2 separate regions of the Homo sapiens genome follow, and region 2 is linked to region 1. The links come from fine-mapping of genetic effects on gene expression. A gene starts in region 1. The other region holds a variant in brackets. All regions are shown on one strand. Distances are from middle to middle. Region 1 holds the start of AMPH (amphiphysin). Region 2 has its middle 51 kb from the start of AMPH.

The links. PIP is the estimated chance that this variant, and not a neighbour inherited with it, causes the effect.
Region 2: its variant is fine-mapped to the expression of AMPH in ovary (GTEx, PIP 0.99).

The regions. Positions count from the first base shown.
Region 1 is chr7:38,629,838-38,632,726 of GRCh38, reverse strand. AMPH (amphiphysin) reads left to right here and starts at 1,354. Exons shown (of 21, transcript NM_001635.4): 1 at 1,354-1,444. The coding sequence starts at 1,376.
Region 2 is chr7:38,680,685-38,683,593 of GRCh38, reverse strand. No RefSeq gene overlaps it. Among named protein-coding and RNA genes, the nearest start is that of AMPH, 51 kb to the right of the region's middle. The variant C/T (reference allele first, on the strand shown) is at 1,504.

The DNA.
Region 1 (2,889 bases):
GGGGGGACTGGAATTACCATGGCGTCACTTTCACCACATCTTATTGATTAAAGCTGGCCATAGCATCATTCTAGAATCAAGGTGAGGGGACTACAGGGTGACACAAGAGTGAACACCAGGTGGCAGCTCGCTGAGGTCTACCAATGTAACAGTTTCCCCCAGAGGTACAGTAGGATGCTCACCTGGACTCATAGGATTCACTGTGAGTGACCACTTCTGACCTCTGTTTGCAGGGCACCACCTGACTTCTTCTCCTCACACTCTCAGTGAGAATGGAATATGAATAGTTTGACCACTGGTCAGAGCCAACAAGAGCTCTAGGTGTAGGGCAGGTTTATCCCTATTATTCGTACTTCTCCCAAGCATTAATAAGAATAATAGGGATGGTGAGTCCCTGTTAAGGTTGCCAAAAGGTTTCCAAGGAAGCAACAAGTTAGGGGGGACTGGGTCTTCCATGGTTGATGCGAAGCTATAAGGGACTTGACTGTTCCATGCACCATTTCTTGAAGAGTAGTCTATTCTAAGGTTTCTGCCCAGCACAGGAATTTTGGAGATGACCAAAACACATCGCCTGTCTTCCGGAAGCTGACCTTTCTCAACGCGGACCTCCCCGCCCTGCTAACTCTTGTTTTAAAGTTTAAACAAGTGTCAGCGATGGTCTCTCCCCGCTTTGCTCTCCACACGCCTCTCTCCTGCAGCTCTGACTTCGTTGGTTTCCCAGCCAGGGCCCCTCACTGGGCTGTGAGCCTCCTGAGGGTAGGGCGACCTCCATACCTTCTTCTGCAACACCCAGGGTGTATGGAGGGGCCTCTGTTAGCTGGAAACTTTTGGGAGCAGCAAGGGACCAGCCCCATCAGCTCCACTTCAGAGCAGTTCCAATCCAGCTGGCTTCCACATCCCTAGGGTTCTTCCCTTTTTTGTCTCCCCTATTTCTTTTTTTGCTGGAAAGAATCAGGTCCCCTCACTCTCCCCAAATACAAACTGCATTAAAAGAACCCCCGAGCTGCCCCTGGGCCCAGGGACTTCTGCTAGGCTTGGTTCCCTTTCTCCTCTCGAAACTCTTCTATCATCGAGGAGACAATCTGGCTTCTGGCTTTTCCCTCTCTTTTTCTTGGCCTCTTTCTCTTTCTTCCCCCGCCCCTTCTCCCCATGTCACAGCCAGTCCCGACGCATCCCGCCCCCGCTCTGTCGCTTTAAGCTGGTCCCGCCGCCGCGCCCCGCCCTCACCCCTCCGCGCTCCGCGGCTCCCCGCCGCTTCTCCCGCTCCTCCCTTGCTCGGCCCTCTCCTCCTCCTCCCGCTCCTCCTCCCGCTCCTCCGCGCCGCCGCCAGCCCCGCTGCGCGCTCTGCTCTTCGCAGCTCCCCGGACCCGCAGCCATGGCCGACATCAAGACGGGCATCTTCGCCAAGAACGTCCAGAAGCGACTCAACCGCGCGCAGGAAAAGGTCAGCGGCGGGCGGCCGGGGCTGGGGCCGGGGACGCCAGGCGGGGGCTTGGCCGGAGGGCACCGGCTGCAGCTGTGCGGGGCCCGAGCCTCGGGGTGCGGCGCGCTGCGGAGCGGGGCCGGGGCCAGGGACGCTGGGACGCCCTGCCCTCAGCTCGGTGACTGCCGCAAGGCGCGACCCGGGCGCCGCGGGGAGCGGGTCGGGAGGACGCAGCGCCGGGGACCCGCAGACCCTGGCCCCGGAGACGCCGGATATGTCCAGCTCCGGAGCCGGCCCCGGGTTGCCGCTCTCCTGGCCCCAAGCCAGGCAACAGAAGTAGGAGGTGCGGCAGCTTGCCCGCTGCGCCCGGAGCAGAGCGCATCTCCCTGCGCTCGCATCTCCCCGGGCCGGCTCCCAGCGCGCCCGCAGGCAGCTCGCGGGGACGCGGCCCGCAGATCGGGGCGGGAGATTGCAGCAGCCTTCCTTCTTGCGGGGGATTTTGTGGCTACTTAAGTGCAGCAGACACGAACGATTTAACAGAGAAGCCACCAAAAATCTCCCAGGACCAATAGGGTAGGATCGTGATCACACAGTGCTGTCTGGTGAGTTCTGGAGTTCAAAACAGAGATCTAGATATACACACTTTTAATTTTGGTCTATATGTTTGTGTCCCTTTTGACTCCAGTGTCCTTCTTTAGAAGGTCAAAAATAAATATGACCTGAACCTAATAGTTCCTTTCTGCATATTTCTGCACAAAGAAGGACCTTTTATTGCATTTTAAAAAATCCAGATTGCACAAATTGGGTTCTCTGTTGTTTTGCAAGTCCCTCAGTAAATTGCGCACAGTAATTTATTTTTTTTCCCCAGAGACGTGCATGAATGAAACCCAGGTCCGTAGCAAGCACAGCCCAAAGCAGGTGGAGGGGAGTTGTACCAGGCACCAGGCTTGCCTGGCTTCCCTGGTGACTGCTGTATATGACGGCCCTGAGGTCTTCATTTGTGTCCTGAGCAAAGGACATTTCCTTTATATTGTAGCTTGAGCATTGTACTTGAAAATCAACACCGGCTAATGAGCCCCATGATTGGTATCACTTGAACTGTGTTCTCTTTCACGTGGCAGTATTTTCCGTCCCTAGGATATGGGGTGTTTAGCGTTTTCCTGTTTTACTGGAAGTCAGATTTGCCATGTTGCTCAGGATGGCAATGAATTTCCCTCTTCAGACCCAATCTCAATCTCAGGCTGCCTCCCAGTTCCGGCTGACCATGAGTTGCTGAGCAGAGGGGGCACTGATCCCTTTTGTCCCCAGGCCCAGAGGCTTGGTGGCTGCCTCTAGTCCCTCCCTCCACACATGCACACTCTCCATGCAGTAAGAGGATTGTATTTCTTTTAATATCTACCCAAGCTCATCCTGAACTAAAGTGATCCTCCTCCTGCCTCTCCCTCCGCAGCTGAATTAGCAAGGCT
Region 2 (2,909 bases), 51 kb before region 1:
GAAAATTTATACAGTAAAACAGGCATAAAATAAAAGGTAAAAGCTGCTTTTTATTACCCTTTTCATCATCTCTTCCTTTATTAGTTATCTATTGCTGTGCAATAAATTACCCCCAAATTTAGCAGCTTAATATAACAAAGCACCATTGTGTCACAGTTCTCGGGGTCAGAAGTCTAGCTGCTGCTTAGTTGGTTGTCTCTGGCACGAGGTCTCTCAGAGGTTTCAGTCAAGCTGTTGACTGGAGCTTCAGTCTCACCTAAACGCTTGACTAAGGGAAGGTCTTCTTTCAAGCTCACTCATTTGGTTTTTGGCAGAATTTAGTCCATCACAGGCAATGGATTAAGGGCCTGGGTTGCTCATAGACGGTTTCCTGCAGGCCTCCCCCGGTTCCTTGCCACAGGAGTCTTGCACAGGGCAGCTCACAATACGGGAATCAGAGGCCCTCTGAGTGAGCAGAGGAGAGAAAAGGCAAGAAAAAAAACACCCAAGTTGGAAGTCACAGTCTTTCTAAAACCTCATCTTGGAAGTGACATCCATTGCTTCTGCTGAATTCTGTTCATTAGAGGCAAGTTAGTAAGTCCAGTCTACACTGGATACGAGGGGATTGCACAATGAGGTGAACACTAGGAGGTGGGGGTCTTTGGGGGCCATCTTAGAGGCTGCCTCCTCTCCCGCCATGTGTCTTTCACCCAAAAGGAATCACTGTTAATAGTTTCTTATCATTCCTCTCAGGGAAAAACAAAAAGAATTGGATTTAAACCAATTATCCAAGATTAACCTGGAAGTGTTCCAACAGTTACTGCTAAGATCTAAATGTCAACCATTCCTAAGTAGCATAAATGTCATCCTAGCCAAGTAGACCAGATGAGCATTGAAACTCACAGCTTGCATTCAAGTAAAAAAGGTAAACAGTATAGCAATGGTAACATGGTGAAAGTGCCCAAGCGTGTGTTTACATTTTCACAAATGAAAAAATATCAACCATAGGACATATGGGCAATGCCTCTGAAGGAGTTCTTGAAAAATAAATTTGCTCAGAAAACATCTCCACCCCTGTCTCCACAAACATTGACAGAGAAGCAGAGTTGCTAGTCCATGATGCTGGTGTGCTATTAGTCCAATGGATAAGTGACAGAGACTGGTGTCTGCTAGGCCAGGTACCACACCTGGCCTCACTCAGTTATCACAGCCAACTTTGCAAAAGTGATATTAACTCCCCTTCAAGATGAAGAAACTGGTACTGAGATGTAAGTGACCTGCTGACATTCCAAGCCAAAGGTCTCTGGTTTCAATGCCTTTTTTCTGTCCACTTTACTCTCCAATAGCCGAGGTCTGTTTTGGCCTCTCTTCATTACTGATTTCCAAGCTATTCCACAACTTGAGTAGGCAGACACTTTCCCTTTATCTGGTTATTCAGAAGGAGAGGTTTCAGCTTTCAACTGCCAACCCCTCTCCAATGCAAACAAGGATTTTGGAAATAAGGACCATATGCTTCTCATCTGG[C/T]TCCAATCCATCTAGATATGTGATGCCTCACAAGGTCTGTTTCTCTTACAAAAGGTAGCAAATATTTAGAAATCATTCTTAAGCTATGTACACAGCAGCAGGACATCAGGTCCTGGCTTTTGTCCTATTTGAATTTAAATTAAGAAAGCAACTAAAAATAGATGGAAGACACAGCTATCTGGGGGATAAAGTCTACCACAAATAACACTTGTAGACAATGTCCAAACGTAACCAATAAACCATGTAATTACATTAGAGAGACTGCTGGGAATTTGAAATGACTAGAAGCTGTTTGATTTTAAAATTTGAGGTATCACTGTCTTTAAAATCTAATGTGTTAAATAACACTTCAGGATTAAGCATTCATTTAACAAACATGTATTGAATTTAGTACCAGGCAGAAGAAATGAAAAAATCCCATCTTTGGGATTCTAGAAGTCTAGGAAATAGAGTAAGATGATCATATAAAAATAATTACAGTACTCTTAGGGGGCATTTATTCTAAAATTCTTATGTTTCCATGAGGGACTTCCACCAGACCACGCTAGGCTTTTCTCCACCTCTCTCCTCTCCTCAGCCCTTCACTGGGGGTCAGTCACAGTGGATTATCTGATGAAGAGTTTGGAAGAGAAAAATGGACTTGCTTCTTTGCCTCTCTTTCTCTCCCCTCACTCCATTCCTACTGTTAAGCTCTCTGCTACTCTACTTCCAGGTAAACAGCATAGCAAGGCAGGTTCTGCCCATCTAAAGGGAGTGTAATTCAGACAGAAAAGTGTGGTACTAAGCCCCCATGCCCACACACAAATCTGACCTTCCAGAGTGCAGTCTGTCAGTAATGAAGCTGATATTTTCATTTCCATCTGATGTCACTGAATGTACATTCAAGTTATCTGGAATTATCTTTAAAACTAACAAATAGTGGTCTTCACCTCAGGCTCACTGAATCTCTGGAGGTACAGGAATTCAATAATGTGTCTCTCTTTGAACTAAGCAAGGAAGAGTGATGTTACTTTCTGGGCCCCTTAAAACTCCAAGAAAAAATACAGTTTGTGCTAAGTATAGGCGCTGTAAGACACTAAGGAGAGCCTACCTCTTCACAGTGGATGAGTAAGGACCTCACAGAGCGGATGTTATTGGGGCTAAATGTTGAAGCATCTGGAAGTATAAAGGCAAAGAGGGCAAAAAAAAATACTCCAGAAAAGAATATGAAAACTCACTGCATGAAAGTACATGTCACAGTAGGAAAATGGAAAATAATCTATGTGGCTTCAGGGTATGGAGGGTTGCAGGAGGTGATGAAAGGAGATTGGTGCTGTGTTGTGAAGGGCCTTGTAGGGACGGCATTATTAAATTCCTGTACCTCCAGGGATTCAGGAAGCCTGAGATGGAGACCACCATGTTTTAGT